Linked DNA regions of Homo sapiens. The protein of the gene in region 1 interacts with the protein of each later gene in a biochemical or structural test. Each region holds a gene or a part of one and is shown in the gene's direction. Other genes may lie near its edges.

Evidence for each region. The genes of interacting proteins can lie anywhere in the genome.
Region 2: of the proteins of PARP1 (region 1) and PIAS4, one has a biochemical effect on the other in vitro, tested with the Homo sapiens proteins (3 studies listed by BioGRID and IntAct, with this or other methods).
Region 3: the proteins of PARP1 (region 1) and RNF4 form a complex in vitro, tested with the Homo sapiens proteins (2 studies listed by BioGRID and IntAct, with this or other methods).

Annotation. Positions count from the first base shown.
Region 1 is NC_000001.11:226,362,836-226,370,353, reverse strand, and holds part of PARP1 (poly [ADP-ribose] polymerase 1), read left to right. Parts: intron 1-2,032; coding exon 2,033-2,155; intron 2,156-2,745; coding exon 2,746-2,874; intron 2,875-4,301; coding exon 4,302-4,400; intron 4,401-5,199; coding exon 5,200-5,352; intron 5,353-6,283; coding exon 6,284-6,411; intron 6,412-7,193; coding exon 7,194-7,255; intron 7,256-7,518. UniProt on the Homo sapiens protein: Poly-ADP-ribosyltransferase that mediates poly-ADP-ribosylation of proteins and plays a key role in DNA repair.
Region 2 is NC_000019.10:4,010,736-4,017,735, forward strand, and holds part of PIAS4 (E3 SUMO-protein ligase PIAS4), read left to right. Parts: intron 1-2,187; coding exon 2,188-2,614; intron 2,615-7,000.
Region 3 is NC_000004.12:2,507,106-2,514,105, forward strand, and holds part of RNF4 (E3 ubiquitin-protein ligase RNF4), read left to right. Parts: intron 1-4,850; coding exon 4,851-4,860; intron 4,861-5,332; coding exon 5,333-5,492; intron 5,493-5,977; coding exon 5,978-6,026; intron 6,027-6,564; coding exon 6,565-6,714; 3' UTR 6,715-7,000. UniProt on the Homo sapiens protein: E3 ubiquitin-protein ligase which binds polysumoylated chains covalently attached to proteins and mediates 'Lys-6'-, 'Lys-11'-, 'Lys-48'- and 'Lys-63'-linked polyubiquitination of those substrates and their subsequent targeting to the proteasome for degradation.

The DNA of each region.
Region 1 (7,518 bases):
ACATTTACTCAAGGTTAAGAAACTGGAAGTACTGAACTGCACTTCACGAGGGTTTCGATTTTTTTCAGTTCAATAAATGACAAGTGCCTGCTACTTACAAAAGTTTATCACAAAACTAATGAAGAGCAACATTTTTCAGTTGTCAGATACTTAGTAAACTGACCATAAACTTGAAGACGTTGGTTACCCTCTCTGTTAAAAGTGAAGTCATCCCTCTGTATCCTCGGGGATTGGTTCCAGGACTCCCTCGGGGTTACTAAAATTCACTCATGCTCAAGTCCTAGAGTGCCCTGCAGAACCCATGGAGGAGAAAAGTTGGCCCTGCACATCTGTGGGTCTCGCATCCTGAGATTTTTTTTTTTTTTTTTTGGTGGGATTTTTCTTTCTTTTTCTTTTTTGAGACAGAGTCTTGCTCTGTCCCCCAGGCTGGAGTGCAGTGTCACAATCTCAGCTCACTGCAACCTCCATCCCCAGGTTCAAGCGGTTCTCGTGCCTCAGACTCCCAAGTAGCTGGGGTTGCAAGCATGGGCCACCACACCCGGCTAATTTTTTTGTATTTTTAGTAGAGGTGGGGTTTCACTATGTTGGCCAGACTGGTCTCAAACTCCTGGGTTCAAGTGATCCGCCTGCCTCAGCCTCCCAAAGTGCTGGGATTACAGGCATGAGCCACCACACCTGGCCTGAGAATACTATATTTTTTATCTGAGTTTGGTTGAATTCTCAACTGCAGAGCCCACAGGTGTAGAGAGCTAACTGTATTTATTGAAAACATCTGTGTATAAGTGGACCCGCATACTTCAAATCGATTGTTCAAGGGTCACCTGTGTTGTGGTTTTTATTTTATGTGTCCTTAAGAGTTAGGCAGAGTTTATTTTGCAGTTACTAGGAAGTCATCAAATGGAAGCCTCTTTCATTCATGTTATTTCAACATTCTTTGAGCATCTTTCAAGGTCTACCAGTCCCGGAGCCTTCCAGCTACATCCTGGAGGGGCTGGAGGGTTCCGCTTATATTTGTGGGTGGGTGCAGGCCTGGCCTGTAGAAAGAAGGAAAGCACACAGGAAGCAGAAGTGGGCCCAGGCAGCGGGCTTTCTGGCTGGTGCTGGAGAAAAGGCGCTGAACCGGATCTGTCAACTTCAGTTACAGCTGGCTCTGAGCAGTGAACCTCTCTCCTTGTTCCTTACTGACTGAGAACTTACAAGGCTTTCCTCGGCCCCAGCTTCTTCCCATGCAATAGTCTTCAGGAAGAAGAGCTGGAATAGCATCCTTACCCATTGCCAGAGCCACCTGGGCAGCACAGATGGAAGTTGTACAACTTGGTGAAGTCCATGTCACAGCGAGAAGCAGGCGTGGGGCTTCGGACCTGCTGGGTGCCACTTCATATTCCCTTGACCTTCCTGTGGTCACCTAGGCTGTCTGCGAAATTCCTGGAATCCCAGTGGCCCCGCTCTTCCATCTCTGTGCATTTTTTGTGCACCCTTTGCATATAGAGCACCAAGTGACACTGGCAGTGAGTGTAAGGATTGCTTAGCCTTTCTGTGCCTGGCCACCTCAACCTCCAGGTACAGTAAAAACTAATTCCAATGAAGGTCAGTGGAGGCAGGGAGCCTGACTGAATTTTATAGCGATGGGCAACCTCCTCCCAACATTTTATTATGAAAATGTTTCAAACATACAAAAAGTTGAAGGAATTTTACAGCAATAGTCATTAGCCCACCACCTAGATTTTACAGTTAACATTTTGCATAGTTGTGGCGGGGTTTCAAATGTCTGTAACTGCACAGTTCTTTGTACAAATGAAACTTCATGGGAGAAGCCCATCACGTGTTGAGCAGTGCTTTTAGAGGATGGGGGTCCTGCCCTGCTCTTTAACAGGAAGATGGTCTTCTGGTCGTTTCCCATGTGTCCTGGCATGTGCACATACCACGCTACTTCTGGACCTGCTGCAGCACCCACCTGCTAAAAGAGAAAGCCTGGCCGGGGGCTTGGAGCTGCTCCCTCAGTCTTGCATTCCTTCTGTCCCCTCCTCTCCAGGCGGTGTCTCAGGGCAGCAGCGACTCTCAGATCCTGGATCTCTCAAATCGCTTTTACACCCTGATCCCCCACGACTTTGGGATGAAGAAGCCTCCGCTCCTGAACAATGCAGACAGTGTGCAGGTAGCGCAAGGGTTCAGAAGGGACTGCAGGTCTGCTGGGCTGGGGTGTGACTACCTTGCAGCCGTCCCTCCCCATCATGATCCCTGAGGGCAGCACCAATGCTGGGAGGGCCACCCTCTTGCCCTTGTTTTGAAGTTGGGTTTCTACCCACATTGATGGAGGCAGAGCTGTTTTTCCTGCCCCTGTTCTACCAAATCCACTGGGGAAAGAGCTGTTGGAGAGGGACAGCCTCTCCCTCATAACAGCATCTTCCTCCCCATTTTCCCTCCCTGCCTTTTAAGACAGCTCCTGGCTCAGGACCCATTTGTCTAAAGTACCTTCACTGTAGGTCCCAAATGTCAGCATGTACGAGAGGAAAGACAGTTCTTCCACCTCTCAACTCCCCCAGGCCACAAGGCCTTGTTAACATTCCAGAAAGTCCTTATGAGCTCTCAATATGTGCAGCAGGTAACAGGCTGGCCCTGACCAGCAGGAGGGTTTGCCATTCACTGTGTTGGACCTTCTCTGCATGTAGGTTTTCTCTGCCACCTGGGTGAGTCTGTCTCATTCACCATGATACCTAAGTCGGGGGCTTTCTTTTGCTCCTCCAGGCCAAGGTGGAAATGCTTGACAACCTGCTGGACATCGAGGTGGCCTACAGTCTGCTCAGGGGAGGGTCTGATGATAGCAGCAAGGATCCCATCGATGTCAACTATGAGAAGCTCAAAACTGACATTAAGGTAACAGGGTCAGGCCTTCCTCAAGCATCTTAACCTCTCATCCTGAGAGCAGCGGTCCCAAACTTCCATGTGTGTTAGGATCTCCTGGAAAGCTTGTTAAAACACAGGTGGCTGGCGCCCAATAATTCACTTTTCTAACAAGTTCCCGGACATTGCTGCTGGTGGTCCTTTGAGAACCTTTGGGCGTTTCACGTGTAGATAATGCACCTTGTTTGCAAGGCAGCCTTCCAAGCCAGCACCTCAGCTTGGCGTACAAATTTATTTTTGAGGGTCTTACCAAAAGTTCTTTTTTGTTTGTTTGTTTGTTTGTTTCCTCTCCTTAATCTAGAGAGGAGCTCTGTTTTTCTAAACCCTTGTAGCGTGAACTTTTAGAAGACTTATTACCGGTGTCCATTTCAGAAGTGGAAATGCTTGATGGCACCTGTAATAAAAACACAATGCTTGCGTTCATTTTTCTCTGGTGCTGAAGTGGACTGTGTTGGCACACACAGTCTCTGAACACCCCGCTTAGACCAACTAGAGGAGGGATTTTTGCCTCAGCTTCTAGATGGCCCGGTCCTTGAGCCTATCTCCACACTCATGTGCCCCATTGTCCTCAGCCCATTCCCTGCAGTGTTGCAGGGGTTTGGGTGGGCGAGAGTATGTTGAGTCTGGTACCAGGTGTTTACATCGCTAAAGAAAGAGCCTTGGCTTCTTTCCTAGGACAAAGTATAGACCTATGGGTCCAAGCAGGGTAAGACACCACATGTCATTTGTTTTGCCCCTAGAGCACCTTCCTGATGGGAAAACTGTAGGTGTGGTTCTTCGTGAAGGGATTCTTATTCTCTTTTTACAATTCTGAAGCCTTTTAATTAAAAGACAGGGAGGTAGACCAGCATTCTAGGTTTTCTGAAGTTTGAATATAAATATGAAAATAAAACATAACTAGTCTCCTCCGTAATACTCAGGCTTACTGAGCATAGATTACATCAGCTATTTGACAGATGCTTGTTAGGCCTGTGCTCTGAGCCAGGGATAATTTTCATTGCACATCATAGCTGTGACTTCCTCTGGCCCATTGTGTTTTAACTCATGCTGAGCTGGACTCTCTTCCAGGAGCCAATTGCTTGTTCTGGAGATGCCCTGTTCACTGACAGTGAATCCCACATTCTAGCTTCCCTGATATCCCAAAACATAGAATTTTAAGACAAAAAGGAACCCTGAGATTCTCTAGCAGCCCAAGTAGATGAAGAGGTGGAGGCTTAGGTAAGTGGAGCCACTGGCCCAGGATCTGCCCAGCCCACAGGCCTGGGACACAGGCTCTCGGTCATGCCCGGCTTCCTTTGAGGAGTGTGGTGTTGAGCTATGCATTGACTGAGCCTGAGCATTCCTCCTCTGTAGCTCTCCTGGGTCTCTTTTGTGCTAATCCCAAGATTCTGTTTATCCAGGTGGTTGACAGAGATTCTGAAGAAGCCGAGATCATCAGGAAGTATGTTAAGAACACTCATGCAACCACACACAATGCGTATGACTTGGAAGTCATCGATGTAAGAATCCCTTCTTCCCCCACTTCCTTCTGTGTCCTGCCAGCTCTTCCCTGCCCACTCCTCCAACCTGGGCCTGGGTAGAAAAGAGCAGTTTATTTACTTTAAATAACCCAAAGAAGTGACTCATTTGTTCAGCAGAAAAATTAGTAGTTTTTTTTTTGTTTGTTTGTTTTTTGTTTTTTTTTTTGACATGGAGTCTCACTCTATCACCCAGGCTGGAGTGCAGTGGTGCAATCCCGGCCTGCTGCAGCCTCTGCCTCCTGGGTTCAAGTGATTCTCCTGTCTCAGCCTCCAGAGTAGCTGGGATTACAGGCGTGAGCCACCACACTCTGCTAATTTTTGTATTTTTAGTAGAGATAGGGATTCACTATGTTGGCCAGGCTGGTCTTGAACTCCTGACCTCAGATGATCCGCCTGCGTTGGCCTCCCAAAGTGCTGGGATTATAAAATTAGCAGTCTTATACAGTAGTTTGGGGATGGCTTTTTATTCTGTTTTAAAGGACATTTCCTGTCCCCAAACCTGGTCTCAGAACATAGATTATCAGATGTCCAAGATAAAGTTCCTCAAGTGCACATCTGCTGCACAGTAATACTAACCAGCAATGGCTGGGCGCTGCTGGGCAGGACCTGGACCTTCCATCCCAGCCTTGTGGAAAACACTTTTTACATTGCAGCAGACCTTAAGTCTTCTAGCCTTAGGGACAGCCGGTCATTTCTCGTGTATCCAGTCCTGTCTTTCAGTCAACCAGAGTAACAAATGGCTTCTTTTGTCCTTCCCTTTGTTTACTACTCCAACCAGATCTTTAAGATAGAGCGTGAAGGCGAATGCCAGCGTTACAAGCCCTTTAAGCAGCTTCATAACCGAAGATTGCTGTGGCACGGGTCCAGGACCACCAACTTTGCTGGGATCCTGTCCCAGGGTCTTCGGATAGCCCCGCCTGAAGCGCCCGTGGTATGTGCCTGGCCTGGCGAGGGGTGGGCAATGCCTGTCTCTGCAGGTGTCTCCATAAAGAACTTTGAGCAAGAGGTCTAGTTGGTTTAGGGGGATTCTGCCAGACATCCTTTCTTTGGGCCTTCACCCTTTTATCCTCCTGACCCTAACCCTGTCAGGGGTTTCAAACACAGTTTCTGGAACAAAGGAGGCAGAGCATCCAGGCCAGGGCCTGCTGCAGATGCTAATCGGGTGTGTTGACAAGCAAAGAACAGACACGTGGCTACAGGCCAAGCTGAGTCCAGGCTTATCTCTACCACTTCCCAGCCGGGCCACCTCTGAGTGTCAGTGTCTTCAGCAGGAAAACGTAGCGATGAATGAGTAAGGCTTTACCTAGACACGAGGGATCGTGATGCCACCTGCTGGATTCTAGATGGGTCCACCTGGACAGGACCTTCTAAGCCTCTTGTTTCACAGTTGTAGAATGAGGAGGAGAGAAGTTTAAATGATTCTCTCTGGGGCTGTGCAGTAGTGTATAACGGGCAAATGGCCTACCCTTTGTGAACCTCGTGTTTCATTTACAAAAGGGAATAAAAATACCAGCCTGCATTCCTTGGGTGTTGACAGGCGCTAGTTTAAGTAACACTGATGAGCTCATTCCGTCCTCATGGCAGCTCCATGAGACTGTGTTCCCCATTTGAGAAAAGAGGCAAGTAGAGTCCAGAGAGGTTACGTAGCTTCTTGCAGCTCCTTGGCACCTGGCAGAGCTAGGATCTGACAGCCTGGCTTGTGAGCTAAAACTTTGGTATTTCCTCACCATGGGCATTGTGAGAATTAGAAGTGATGGATTGCAGCACTTAGCTGGGTGGCTTGCTCAAGTTGGCACTCAGTGAACAGCTGCTCCTAATTTCCCATCAGAAGATTCTCAGCTCTCCCTTTTCCGACCTTCCAGACAGGCTACATGTTTGGTAAAGGGATCTATTTCGCTGACATGGTCTCCAAGAGTGCCAACTACTGCCATACGTCTCAGGGAGACCCAATAGGCTTAATCCTGTTGGGAGAAGTTGCCCTTGGAAACATGTGAGTAAACCTGGCTCTGGGACTGATGGCATTTCATGGGGACAGGTGGAATGGGCTATAGGCAGAACTCCCCTTGGCTGGGAGAGTAGAAATTCCCCACTGCAGTTACTGGACGCACCAATTAGGATTCTTTTCTTATAAGTAGCAGAATCCAATTCAAGTTAAGGGAACAAGGGAGATACAAGGATACTTCAGGAAATGCAAGGGCAGGAACGCAGCCAGGCCTCCAGAGCTGGCAGTGTCTTCTCTCCATGGACTGGGAAGCAGAGAGATTGAGTTGCACAAAGGATGATCCCCCAGGCCGCCTCCTCCACTCACCAGTGTTTCAGTTTTCTTAGACCAACCCAAATGGAACTGGAATTTTAATTCCACTTCCAGATTCTCCATAGAGAAAGATCTGATTAGTCCAGCTTGATTTGGACATCGACCCTAGTCCTGTGAACTGTAACCAAAAGCACAAGGTCATGTAAAAGGCCAGGGGTCTGGGGACTGTGGAATGTGGACGGAAACCTAGAGCTGCTGACCACCACTCCAAATAGGGCCTTGCCTTGAAAATGGCCCCATAGCAGTGATCGCTGGGCACAAACTATGTTCAGCCGCAACTGCAGTTTCAGGTTCTGGAACAGTTCCAGAAACTCAGGAGGGAGCCTGAGCAGTTTAGATGGTCTGGGTTTTGTGGACTTTTATCTCATCTCTGTATCTGATCTTATTCTCCTAATCAAACTGTTGGTTTCGAGAGCCCAGTGTGAAGGCCTCTTCTGAGACTGTCCTCTTTTGAATAGGTATGAACTGAAGCACGCTTCACATATCAGCAAGTTACCCAAGGGCAAGCACAGTGTCAAAGGTAAAGTGTTTCCAAAGCTGTTGCTACAGCCCGAGGCACCCTGGACAGCACAGAAGCCGGGGGCTTGCTGTCCTGAGAAGGCTGCCTTGTGGCTGGCTGTCAAACAGCTGGAGATTCATTTTATCTTTTCGAGGGGTGTGTGTGCGTTGTTGTTGTTGTTTGGGGGGTGGTGGTGGTGGTTAATATGCTGCAACTGACCATGATTGGAGGTTCATTTTATTTATTTTTGTAAAAAAAAAAAAAAAATAGGCAAGCTCTATAGC
Region 2 (7,000 bases), on another chromosome or scaffold:
TACACGATGGGTGTCCTCATTGTGAAATTAGCGACACAGGCCTTGCTGGTGCCTGGTAGGGAGCAAGACGCTGGCATCCCGATTCTTTACAGTCACGGGGCCCCGCAGCCCTGATATGGGAAGAGGCTTCTCCCGAGGCTCTTTGGGCAGGGCTGGGCCGCCTGCACGTGTGTCCCTGTCATTTTGAGCCTGGACAGCCTCTCCGTCTCCAACAGGACCCTGGCCCGATACAGCTGGAAGAAATCAGAGCTGACAGATGAGGACCCGACAGTGGGCCCCGGCTGCTGCAGCTTTGGTGCTGAAATGTGCGGCTAGGCTCCTGGTCTCACCCTGGGGCAGCCAGGAGCCGGAAACCTCAGCGCCTCCTGGCACGGAGGCTGCAGTTTACATACCCCACTGGGACTGCCTCTGGCTTCGACCCTCAGGGTCTTTCGAGTGGAGTTTGAATGGTTTATTGGTTTCTTCGGGTACCCGCCAGCTTTCCTTAACACCCTTGACGCTTGAGCTTTCTCCCCATTCCTCCTGGAAGCTACTGTTTCCCACCACATCTCATTCATCCCAGGCCAGCTTCAGGGCTAAGGGTGGGTGGCCCTGAAACCCTGCCAGCCCATCCCTCGAGGACACCTGGCTTCTGCAGCCTGTTGAGGAGCCTTCCTTCCCCTTCAGGGTCCTACCCCTCATGGAGGTCAGGCCACTGCCAGTCTACCCCACCTCAAACACCAGGGTCAGCTGGGCTCTGCTGTTTGGTTTTTATTTCGCTGGAGAGGCCCGGCCAGGCGATGAGGGCCAGGTCCTGCCAAGCCTCATTTGTCGCTTTGACCCAGGTCCTGCAACAGCCCCTGTGGCTGCTATCTTCCCCTTGGACCGGTCCCCCAGGGACTCAGGGCAACGTGTGGAGGTGTGTTTGGTGTGGAGGTGTGTTTGGTGTGGAGGTGTGGGGGGTGTGGAGGTGTGTGGGGTGTGGAGGTGTGTGGGGTGTGGAGGTGTGTGGGGTGTGGAGGTGTGTGGGGTGTGGAGGTGTGTGGGGTGTGGAGGTGTGTGGGGTGTGGAGGTGTGTGGGGTGTGGAGGTGTGTGGGGTGTGGAGGTGTGTGGGGTGTGGAGGTGTGTGGGGTGTGGAGGTGTGTTTGGTGTGGAGCTGTGGGGTGTGGAGGTGTGGGGGGTGTGGAGGTGTGTGGGGTGTGGAGGTGTGTGGGGTGTGGAGGTGTGTGGGGTGTGGAGGTGTGTGGGGTGTGGAGGTGTGTGGGGTGTGGAGGTGTGTGGGGTGTGGAGGTGTGTGGGGTGTGGAGGTGTGTGGGGTGTGGAGGTGTGTGGGGTGTGGAGGTGTGTGGGGTGTGGAGGTGTGTTTGGTTGTCGTGAGCTGTGGGTATTTAGCACCACACAGAGCCCAGGATGGCCCCAGTGTCCACAGGGCCAAGGAGGAGAAACCCTGCCTGGGATGATCAGCAGATGTTTCGGAGGCCCCCACAGGCCCAGCCCTGTGTTGACATCCAGAGGGTAGTGTGGCAGCAAGAACCGCCCCTGGCTTCAGAGCCAGGCCTGGGTTCGAATCTTGGCGCTGCCACCTCTGAGCCGACAGTTCCTCATTTGTGACAGAGCTCACACACCAGCCTAGCAGGGGTGTTTTAAGGATCAGAGTTAAATATATAATCACATGACCGGCTTGGTTCCCGGCAGGTGATTAGTACTAAGTAAACTGTGGCTACCGTTGGCGAGACCGAAGGGAAAACATATCTGTGGCTGACATGGGTTGAGCGCCCGCCCAGCCAGTGCTTTATGTCATTATCCTCCCGACGTAGAGACTGAGGGTCAGAGAGGCATTTGGTGTTTGCCGGTAAGGCACTGGCAGAGGCTGTTTACAAGTAAAGCACAATTGTCAGTTCCTGCCCTGGGGATGCTTTCAGGCTGAAGACAGGGAAAGAGAACCTAAAATAGAAGGGGGGGCCTAGTCAGAGGCGCTTTTGCTGCGTTGGCGATGCTGGGGAAAGTTTGATGAGGAGGAGGGAGGGGGCAGGGCTTTGCTGGGAGGGGGCACCGTAGGGGCAGGGCACTCCACCAGCCCCAGCCAAGGCTGGCGCTTCCTGGCGAGTGGGTGTCTTTCACGGCCCCCACATCGGGGCCTGGCCTCCATGGAGTCCCCTGCCTCGCAGCTGTGTCCTCTGAGTGTGTGTGTGCTTGCTCCTCCTCAGAACATGGTGATGAGTTTTCGAGTCTCCGACCTTCAGATGCTCCTGGGTTTCGTGGGCCGGAGTAAGAGTGGACTGAAGCACGAGCTCGTCACCAGGGCCCTCCAGCTGGTGCAGTTTGACTGTAGCCCTGAGCTGTTCAAGAAGATCAAGGAGCTGTACGAGACCCGCTACGCCAAGAAGAACTCGGAGCCTGCCCCACAGCCGCACCGGCCCCTGGACCCCCTGACCATGCACTCCACCTACGACCGGGCCGGCGCTGTGCCCAGGACTCCGCTGGCAGGCCCCAATATTGACTACCCCGTGCTCTACGGAAAGTACTTAAACGGACTGGGACGGTTGCCCGCCAAGACCCTCAAGCCAGAAGTCCGCCTGGTGAAGCTGCCGTTCTTTAATATGCTGGATGAGCTGCTGAAGCCCACCGAATTAGGTGAGTGGTCACCCTGGGGAGGCTGCGACTGGAGGCTTCACCTAGGCCCCGTCGCCCAGCCCAGCCCAGCCACACAGCCGACTTCGAGTGATGTTCTCTGTGGCGCAGCCAGGGCGGGGAGCCACAGTGGCCAGGGGTGTCCTTCCTCGGAAGCAAAGGGACCATCTTTGATATTGGTCACCCCTTGCTGTGTTACAAGTTACCCCGAAATGGAGCCACTGGAAGCAGGGGGCGTCTGTTAGCTCTCAGGAACCTGTGAGCTGTGTTGCGGGGCATTGGGGCTTGGGGGCTCTCATGAGGCTCAGTCAGGCTGGAGCCACCTCATCTGGAGGCTCGACCAGGGCTGGAGCAGGCACATCCTTGTGTGGTGGCTGGCAGGCCTCAGCTCCTCGCCAGCTCTTGGCCACAGTCCCCAGGTCCTCATGGTGCGGACTCCTGCACGGATTGCCTGGGCGTCCTCAGCCTGGTGGCTCCCTCACCCTAGGGTAGCGAGTGTGCACCTCCAAGCTGGGAGCTGGAGCCCTTTTTATAACCCAACCTCGGACACGCCTCGCCATCTCCCCCACAGAGTCCGTTGCTCACACAGACTCTGTGGCGCATGCAGGGACCACACCAGGCTGTGACTGCCAGGGCCAGGGGTGACCAGGGCCACCTGGGAGCCTGGTTTCCCTGCTTATTCCCCTTGGAAAGGGGGCTGGCCAGTGGCATCCTTCCCCCGGGCTCTGGTTCCTCGCTGGCAGCCTGCAGGAGTGTCCTTGGTCAGTGGGCTCAGGTCACTGCCAGGCTGTGTGCACCGGGCGTGCTGGGGGTTCAGGGCGATCCCAGGCGGAGGAGAGGTGCTGGGCTCCACGCTTCTCTCTCTCGTGTCTTTGTCTGCAAGCACTGACTGAGCAGGAACTGTGTGTCAGGACCTCATAGCCCACAGCAGTGTGGACAGGCCCCTGGTGCCTCCCCAGCAGCCGTGGCCATTCAGGCTGCAGGTGGGCATTGAGCCCAGTCTCTGCCTCAGCCATAGCCCTGAGCTCAGGGCCAGGGAGGCCTCCGCAGCCCCAGCCCCCAGGGCAGAGAGAGTGTGCAGCCTCTGGGACTCCCAGATAGGGAGCGGAACGTCCTGGGCCTTTGCGGACCTGTGCCTTGAGGCGCTCAGATTTCACCAAGTCCTCTGTGTGCCTGGAGGTCTCTCCGTCTCTTCTTCCTGCCTCCCCTCCCCTGCCCCCACTCTTTCCTTCGCACAGTAAACATCGGAGCGCCTGCTGGGTGGGTGCGTGATGGGCACCAGGCGTGGGCACGCAGCAGGGAACAGGACCAAGGCCACGAGGTTCAGAACCCTGTGCATGCCCCCTCCCACCCTGCTGACCCAGCAACCTGCCTGGCCCCTGCTGTGGCCTGAGGGCCCTTCTCTGGCACGCTTCAGTCCATTGGGTGCCAGCTGGCCCCCGCTCCCCTGCCCAGGGAGGCAGCGTTGATGGGGGTAGGGGGAAGGGGAACTGGCTGCTTTTCCCCTCCCATCTGCAGCCCTGGGACTTAGTGAGGTTAGGCTGGAGGGGCTGTGCTTCCAGGTGAGGATGGAGGAAGTGGAGGAGGGAGGAAGGTGCTGTCGGTGGTTCCTGCGGCAGCCGAGGCTCCTCCCTCCAGCCTGAGGCTCCGCCTTCCAAGTGAGGCTCCGCCTCCACCTTTTTTCTCTTGCAGGAGGTGTCTAGCAGCAGCCTCCTGGGGAGCAGGTTGGCCCAGTGGCACCTGTCCTGGGGGACTCAGGGTCTTGGCCTGAGTTCCATCGGACTGACTTTCCCAGCCTTTGCTCTCTCATGAGGGAAGCTGTTCCCCCTGCCAGGTTCTTGGGCAGAGCTGGCTGTCTCTGAAGGTTGGGCCTTGGGAAGGACCTGCATCACAGGGAGGCTGGGCTTTCCTGGGAGCGGCAGGGCAGGCTTGGTCCAGGGCGGGGGACGGGGCTGACCAGCTTCCTTCCTGCACGGGGACCAGTAGCTCCGTCCCACAATACATCGCTGTGCCCTGAGCCACCAGGGACCCCGGTCACCTGATCTCCGGGAGAGCCTGCTCCCCTGTCTACACCAGTGTGCCTGTGCTGGCGGCTCAGAACAAAGAGGCCATCCCCACCCTGCCTCTCTCTCCCACTGGCTCTCTCTCCATCTCAGGCCGCCAGGTGAACCTCCTTTCCTGGATTCCGTGCTCTTGGGGGACTCCCTGGGGGCCACCTCGGTCCTCAGAAGTTTCCTGGAGCATAGCCCCTGGCCCCGAAGCAGTGGTCCCCATGGTTTTAGGACCTGAGATGCCATCTGTCCGCCCTGACCCTGGGCTGTGTCCCTCCCCAGGGTGCACTCTGTGGTGCTGGCCTTGCCCGGGGGCCGCCTCCGGAGGACCCAGTTCCACCGGCTTCTCCCTCACTCCCTCCTCTGGCTGTGACCCACCGTCCAGCGTGAGGCCCACCGCTCTGGTCTGTTTCCCCGGAATAGCCGCCGGCCGGCTCCAGGATGGAGACCGCGCCAGGCGGACAGGAGCCATAAATCACGCGGTGCGGAATGCTGGGCTGGGGGAGGGGGTGACAGAGCCACAGAGCAGGCTGCAGGGGCCTCAGGCTGTAGGTGATCGGCTCCAGTGGGAGGTGCCGTGTGTGGGGACGGGGCTGGCACCCAGAACAGTGCGGAGAACGGCCCAAGGTCGCACAGCGGCCTGCCTTCCCTCCTCCCGAGCCGACTGGCTCCTGCTCCTGAGCAGAGGCTCTGGCCTGGACCTCTGCAGGCTGGGAACCCTGTCCTGCCTGTCGGCAAGGAAGCCGGCGCCACCCCTTTCCAGCCTGCGCCACCTGGGGAGTCCGGCTAGGGAGCCTGACCCTCCTGTCAGGGTACTTGGGAAGAGAGGCTGTCAGGAAATGTGGGGCAGAAGGAAGGATACATGCTGGCCGGGCACAGAGCTGCTCCTCCAGGGTCTTGGCCCGCAGCGGGCACCCCGAGGAATCTGCCTGCCCACCCGCCTGCTGTGCAGAGTGGAGCCCCTGTCACCACGACTCCAGATGCCCCCAGAGGCAGATAGCCCTGGTACCAGCCAAGAGCCGCCGGTCTGGCATGTGCTGTGCTGTGTGTAGGCACCTGTGCCCTTCAGCCTCTGAAGCCCTTGGGCCAGCATTGCCCAGGCCACAGCAAGGTAGCGTGGTCCCTGCTCAGGTGCAGCACAGAAGTGCCAGGTGATAAGTCTCATGGCACACGGAGGGCTTTCAGGGGCAGCTGTCAGTAGCAGGAGCCATTTACTCTACATTTGTGAGGAGGTAGCAGTCAGGAAGGCCTCCTGGAGGCAGCAGCGTTTCAGTCCAGACCCGAGGGTGACTCTCAAGAAGCCAGGCAGAGAGGAGGGGGCAGGGGAGCGTATTCCAGGCAGAGGGCAGTGAGGGCAGAGGCCGATGGCCAGAGAGGGCTCATTCATGGGGCTGAATGGAGTTCATTGTGGCCAGAACATGGTGCGCCCAGGAGGAGGGACGCAGTAGCCTGGGCGCGGGCGGCAGAGGCTGGAACCCGAGAATGGTGGGCCCGGGGAAGGCTGGGGGCTACCCTGCTTGCCCCGAGGGCTTCAGCGCCCCTGAGGTTCTGGTATGATTTTTGGGGTCAGTGAGGAAACTGAAGTGCAGGAGGCAAGTGGCCGTCTGCCTTCCACAGCCAGGCCTGCTGCCCGCCCAGGCCCACCATCTGTCCGTCTGCACACTGGGGGCCTGGATGGGCACGGAGCGTCCTGTGTCACTGTCCCACATGTGGGGTAGTCTGACCCACTCAGCCCGCTGGCACTTCCCATACCTGTGGTTGGGGAACAGGGGGACTCCGCCAGCTCTGCCCCAGGTCTTGGCCTTCAGGTTGAAGAGGAGGGATGGGCCCACTGCTACCAGATGGGGGGCTGCCAGCAGCCACCCCCATGTCCCGCTAGTCCTTCTCCCATCCCCTGTGGCCCCCTGCCCTGCCCAGCCCAGCTCCCCAACCTGCCCGCTGGCTGCAGCCTCCTGCTCTGCTTCCTGCCCACTGGTCCCCCTCCCATGGCAGCCTGTGAATGTTTTCACTGATGGGTAGAGTGGTCGGCATCACCCCTGTGCCTAGCCAGGGGCACCTGTTCCCCGCCCCTCCAGGACAGTGCCCCCTGTGTCCCTCATACCTGACTGTGCTGCCTCTACTCTTGATCTGGGGGACCTGGGTTGGGGAATCAGTGCTGGTAGCTCTTAGCTGGACAGGGTGGGTCCGGGAGTTAGAGAACTTGTATGTGCCGGGGAGGGGACAGCCTGGGGAGGGGGCCAGCACATGGGCCAGCTGGAGGGGGAATGGTCCCATCCGATCAGCTTTTTTTTTTTTTTTTTTTGAGATGGAGTCTGACTGTCGCCCGTGCTGGAGTGCA
Region 3 (7,000 bases), on another chromosome or scaffold:
ACTATGTGTGTTTTATTCTGTATCCTGCCTGGTTTTCCATTTATGAGACTCTGTAGAAAGGATGCTTGATAAAGGCTTTTCTGGAAGGAAGGAAGGAAGAGGGAGGGAGGGAGGGAAGGAGGGAGGGACAGAACCCTGTAGATCTCTGGGTGTAAAGGACACAGGAGGCACACTGTTGGAATAAGTGAGCCAGCCCAATTCCATAGAAAGAAAGAAGAGCTCAGAAAAGCCCAAACATCATATCCAGGAATTAGCCAAGATGGGTTGGCTACTCAACTACAATGTGATTGTCCGCACCAGTCTTCCCGACTTTCCTGCCAGTGCCGCAAGTAACAGGCATCAGTAACTGCATGATGTGTGTAGCTGTTGGACATTGAGTAGCCTTTTGTGTGCACAGTGCTTGGAGATGGCTGTTTTTCCAGTGGAGCAATGTGCAGTGCTGTGAGCTGTAAAGTTGTCTAAAGCAAGTGTGTCTTGGTGCCCTTGGCTGGGTGAACATTCCTAGAAATGCCAGGGGCCAGCCTGAGTGCACGGGACCCAGTGATTCCTATACTTGCTTCTTTCATGCAGAGGTGTTCTGAGGCTCACCTGTGCTTTTAGAAGCACAAAGGGGCTTCGAGTGACCAATCAGATGTGCCTGCTGCAGGTCCACTCGTCTCTAAATGCTCTGACCTATGGACTGTTGTCCATAGTTGAGAAGAAGCTAGAGTAAAATAAAATGTATGAGTGAGTGAATCTTTTTCTTTTTTTTTTTCTTTTCTCTTTTTGAGACAGGGTGTTGCTCTGTTGCCCAGGCTGGAAGGCAGGGGCCCGAGCTCAGCTCACTGTAGCCTCAACCTCCCAGGTTGAAGAGATCCTCCTGCCTCAGCCCCAGGAGTACTGGGACTACAGGTACACACTGCCATGCCCAGCTTATTCTTTGTATTGACGGGATCTCGCCGTGTTGCCCAGGATGGTCTCGACCTCCTGAGCTCAAGTGATTCATCCCGCCTTGGCCTCCCAGGGTGCTGGGATTGCAGATATGGGACACCATGCCCAGCCGAGGAAGTGTGAATTTCTGATCTTGGGCTAGCTTACCACAGTACTAATTAAACTATTCAGTTCAGGGGATTAGTTAATTGTTGTTATTTCAGTTTTGGTTTTTCACTTATCTTAAAAGCCTCTCAAATAGATTAGAGGCCCCAGAGCTTGTGTTACACCTCTATCCATCTCTCAACTCATCTGGTAGGCATTTATGAAGCGCTGGTACTCTTCCCTCTGCACCTATCTTCTGTGCTGGGCAAGTACTGTGCCACCTGCAGGGCCATAGCTGTGATTTAGGTTCATTACAGAGTTCTTGAGATGTCTGCAGGGATTCTGGAATTTGATGTGACTCGGCCACTGGGTGGAGGGAACACCAGTAATCAATACTGTATTGTCCACCAGCTGAGAGGCCAGGCTGTGGTCGTTGGTTTTGTTTTTTTGTTTGTTTGGTTTTTGTTTTGTTTTGTTTTGTTTTTTGTTTTTGTTTTGTTTTGTTTTTGAGACGGAATTTCACTCTTGTTGCCCAGGCTGGAGTGCAGTGGTGCAATCTCGGCTCACCACAACCTCCACCTCCCAGGTTCAAGTGAGTCTCCTGCCTCAGCCTCCTGAGTAGCTGGGATTACAGACATGAGCCACCACATGCCCGGCTAATTTTGTGTTTTTAGTAGAGGCGGGGTTTCTCCATGTTGGTCAGGCTGGTCTCAAACTCCCGACCTCGGGTGATCTGCCCGCCTCTGCCTCCCAGAGTGCTGGGATTACAGGCATGATCCACTGCCCCAGGCCTTTTTTTTTTTTTTTTTTTTTTTTTAATTAAAGACAGTTTCACTATTGTCGCCTAGGCTGGAGTACAATGGATCTCAGCTCACTGCAGCCTCCACCTCCCGGGCTCAAGTGATTCTCCTGCCTCAGCATCCCAAGTAGCTGGGATTACAGGTGCCCACCACCACACCCGGCTAATTTTTGTAGTTTTAGTAGAGACAGGGTTTCACCATGTTGGCCAGGCTGGTCTCAAACTCCCGACCTCAGGTTTTCTGCCCGCCTCTGCCTCCCAAAATGCTGGGATTGCAGGCATGAGCCACCGGGCCTGTGCTTTTCTTTTTTTCTTTTTGAGACAGTTTCGCTATTGTTGTCTAGGCTGGAGTGCAATGGCGTGACCTCGGCTCACTGCCCCCTCCACCTCCTGGGTTCAAGTGATTCTCCTGCTTCAGCCTCCCAAGTAGTTGGGACTACAGCCACGCGCCACCACACCCAGCTAATTTTTGTAGTTTTAGTAGAGACAGGGTTTCACCATGTTGGTCAGGCTGGTCTCGAACTCCTGACCTCGAGTGATCCGCCCATCTCGGCCTCCCAAAGTGCTGAGATTCCAGGTGTGAGCCACCGCGCCCAGCCTGTGGTGTTGTTCTTATACTGAAGACTCATCTGGAAGCTGTTTTTCTCTCATTAAAAGCGGGGACAGTCAGAATTGTTACCAGTGAGGAAACACTCTGGCGACCCTGTTCTTATGCACCCCAGTAGTTGTGTGTGTATCACCTGCTGCTTGCCAGCAGCCCCTGGGCTCAGTGCTCAGGACAGGCCTCAGTTTGGTACCATCCACAGGCAAGCTGGGTATGACTCACAAGAGACCATAAAGACTCAGTACGCGCACTGTCATGGCTGGGGCACTGGGAGTGTCATACCCTTTCCAGGTGTCCACACCTAATTAGTGGGTCATCTTGGCAGAGGGTGGGGGCATGTTGGAGCTGTAGAAAGCTGGGGTCATTTCTAGCCACAGAAGAATTTGCTTTTGCTCCCAGCTAAACCCAAGGCTTTCCCCAAGGGCCAGCACTGTTACCAGAGCCTCCTTTTCTAGATTTCATGCGGACAGTACATTGTGCCGGCCCTGGTAAGTTTGGTCCTGATGGTGAGGTTGACTGATTGTCCCCAGATTTCCCTTTTCACCGTCTGCAGTCTCCTCTAAGAGGAAAGGGGAGCACGTTTCAGTGGCTCCACGTATGTGGATTATATTCTCATCCTCAAATCAAAGACCTTTATACTCAGTCCTGCATTCTTCCTGCATGGCCGTTTGTGTATGTCAGGATGCCATTTGGGAAACAAAATCCACTCTAATTATTCCTAAGCTTAGTGGATTTTAACATGGAAGGAGAAGCCTAAATCAGCAGTGTCTGGGCTGGGTCTCCAGGAATAACTCTTGACCTCGAAGCATTGACCCACCTAGGGAGCTGCTGTGTCTGCTCCATGAAGAAGGTCTGGAGGCGGCATCCACCCCCTGCACTCATATCTTTGGGTTCGTGTAGACAGTACTGCAGACCCTTTCTAGGGAGGAGAGGCCTGGGCTCAAGACATAGCAGCCTCTGCCAGAAGTGTTTCTTCAGGATGCAGCTGTGCCTGCCAGTGCCAACACCCTCAGCAGCTCAAATCGGCCTCCATCCCCTGCCCTGCCAGTAGCATGAGTGTGTCTGTTTGAGGGAACTCGGTTCACGTCTAGGATCCTGGCTGCACGGGAGTCAGAGTAGAGGATTAGAGCTTCTTGTCACTGTAGGGCAGGATGTCCTGCCCAGGGGACAGGCAGGGTGAGGTGAGCAGTAGGGCTTTGGTGGTGAGAACTTTCCTGAAACAGCCCCTCCTACGTGCTCAGCAAGAGGGAAAGGGCGTTCCACTGGCCCCCCTAGATGGGTAAGAGCACTTGGCCAGAAGGTGGGAGGAACCACGTTTGAAACTGTTGGAGCAGAAATTGTCTAGATGTAAGTTCTGAGCTGGCAGGTGAGAGGCTTGTCAGGTTCTTAGGCCCCCAGGACAGAGAATTGGATTGTGTTCAATCCTTGGTGTGTGTCACACGCATTGGTCATGCATAGCCTGCTTTTCTCTGTTAGTTACTTGTAACAACCTACTGAGCAATGCAAATCCTCCTCCACATGAAGGCTCCACCTTGGCAGTGGCCTACATTGGTCGCGTCAGCTTGAGAGAGCATCATGCCCCTAGTGCTGTCTAAATGTTCACTGCCTCACGTAACCCTCACAACAGCACAGTCAGATGTGGGCTCTGGTGACTCTGCTTCAGAAGAGAAAGCTGCAGCCCCCAGATAGTAAGTAAGGTCCCCAGGTCTTGCAGTCAGCACATGGTGTGGCTGTGGCAGCCCCCAGATAGTAAGGAAGGTCCCCAGGTCTTGCAGTCAGCACATGGTGTGGCTGTGGCAGCCCCCAGATAGTAAGGAAGGTCCCCAGGTCTTGCAGTCAGCACATGGTGTGGCTGTGGCAGCCCCCAGATAGTAAGGAAGGTCCCCAGGTCTTGCAGTCAGCACATGGTGTGGCTGTGGCAGCCCCCAGATAGTAAGGAAGGTCCCCAGGTCTTGCAGTCAGCACATGGTGTGGCTGTGGCAGCCCCCAGATAGTAAGGAAGGTCCCCAGGTCTTGCAGTCAGCACATGGTGTGGCTGTGGCAGCCCCCAGATAGTAAGGAAGGTCCCCAGGTCTTGCAGTCAGCACATGGTGTGGCTGTGGCAGCCCCCAGATAGTAAGGAAGGTCCCCAGGTCTTGCAGTCAGCACATGGTGTGGCTGTGGCTGTGTTCACGCTCCAGGAGACTCCACTAAACACCCAGCAGGGAGAGACACAGCACATCAGCTGGGAGGTGGAGTGACTTGGGAAGTGGGCTTGACTGACTGGGAGAGGTGCACAGATCCTCTGTGGGTGGGAGGAGGGTGGGGCCTCTGCTGCTCACCAGAGGGTTCCACAGAGGGTGTCACACGTCAGAAAAAAGAAATGGCTTCGTTTATCACTTATATCAAACTGATTGCTTCTTTCTCTTTTGTTTTTCTCCTTCTGTTTACAAGATTGTTGACGGTGAGTGGTTTCGTTTCCTTTTTCACTGGGTTTGGAGAGGAAACTGGCATAGGTGAGAGCCGCGGTGCTGCAGGTCTTGCCAGACCATCCCCAAGGGCTTGGAGCGCTCCAAGCAGGAAGATGCCTTCGCAGATGCTGTGGTCAGACCCACACAGCCAGTCCCCCTTGTGCCTGCTGAAGAAACTTCACCACTATCATTGAGCACTGAGCTATAGTCCTTTCTTGTGGCCTACCAGATTTTGGAGAAGGCTGGTAGCTCACAGCAGGGGTTGGGGGGTTTCTCCTGGGAAGATAAGATAGTGGCCTCCAGAGCTGGGCAGAACCTTCTGGGTTATAGCTGAGCATGGCAGCAGTTTGTCTCTGGGGGTCCCAGGCAGGGAAGGAAGAGGGTCTTAAGAGGCGTCAGGATGGGAGTGGTGAGGATGGTAAGAGTAGAGAGCCTCCAACCTGAAAATGTGACCTCTTACCTTAGAAAGAAGAAGACCAAGGAGGAATGCTAGGAGGCTGCCCCAGGACCATGCTGACAGCTGTGTGGTGAGCAGTGACGATGAGGAGTTGTCCAGGGACAGAGACGTATATGTGACTACCCATACTCCCAGAAACGCCAGGGATGAGGGCGCTACAGGCCTCAGGTACCAACGTGCCCCCAGCTCTGCTGCCGCCATGCTAGGATGTGGGGCCAGGGCATGGGAATACTTTTCAGCAAATCTGTGAGCCCTTGGCCCTGGAAGGGCTTGCCCAAGCCTCTACCCAGCATCTGGATACAGTTGGAACTGGGTCCAGAACTGAGTCCAGCTATTCCCACTGTAACCAGAGGATGCCAAGCGCTGACACAGTGTGTGCAGACAGTCCCAGTGGCCCCAGACAGGGATCCTGGGGCTGGTAGGGGCCTGGGGGAGGGCAGGGTGACTCAGGTTGTGTGCACCTTCTCATGTTCACCCTCCCACATGCCCTTGGGGCAGTTGGCTTTCCTGAAAGTCTCTCGGATGCCCGCGCTAAGGCAGAGTCAGGAGGCCAGGGACGGGACTCTTGTAGGGGATAGGGGCCACTCACGTGACAGGGTATAATAAAATGTTTGCGTTGACTGAGAAACTAACGTGAAGCACTGTGCTCTTAGGCCCTCAGGTACTGTCAGTTGTCCCATCTGCATGGACGGATACTCAGAGGTAAGTAAACCAAGCTGTATCTTCCAGGCTTCTGGTTTCTAAACTTCACTGAAAGAATTGGATGAGACAGGATCTTCCCCCTCGGTGGGATTGGACACCCCTACTCACAGTCATGCCTGGGCCGTCACTTATTGCAGATCTGCCTGTGAGGGGAGAATGTGCCAGTTTCTCCTTGGACCCTACAACTTTCACCTTCAGCCCCTATACTCCTGTATGCCCTGAGCTTCCGGGTGCAAATGCGTCCTCCTTTTTTGTGCCCCATCCTGGCTCTAACTGAAAGCTGCTAGTGTTTACTGGGGTCCCTCATAACCCTCTTGGGCTGTCACACTGTTGAGATGCCATGGCCCCTGCCTCCTGCTCTCCAGCTGAGAGAGACCACAGCAGACACAGTTAGCTCTCCAGACCCCTCCCTGTTGTAGCCTGGCCCTTGCTTTCCTTTAATTAGTCATCTTAGGCATAGGTGGGTGGGATTCTCTGGCCCCATGGCTGCTCTGGGACAAGGGCAAACTCGGAGGCTCTTCTTTTTAATGCCTTCTAGATCGTGCAGAATGGACGTCTCATCGTTTCCACAGAATGCGGCCATGTCTTCTGTAGCCAGTGCCTCCGTGATTCCCTGAAGAATGCTAATACTTGCCCAACTTGTAGGAAAAAGATCAACCACAAACGGTACCACCCCATTTATATATGAAGTATTCAGAGCCCCCCAGGAGAGACGGATGGACAGACAGACAGCCAGGTTCTCCAGTGGTATCTGCCTCCATTTTCCTGAGATCAAAAAGACTGTTTCGAAACCAACATCTGATATGTAAACTGCTCTTTTGTTTCCAACCCCTTCCTTTTGTTATCTCCAGTTTGATGCTATGGCGCTGGACCCAGGGCCCTCCCAGGCCATCTCTGTTCCTCTGGGGTGGTCCAGTTCTAGAGTGGGAGAAAGGGAGTCAGGCGCATTGGGAATCGTGGTTCCAGTCTGGTTG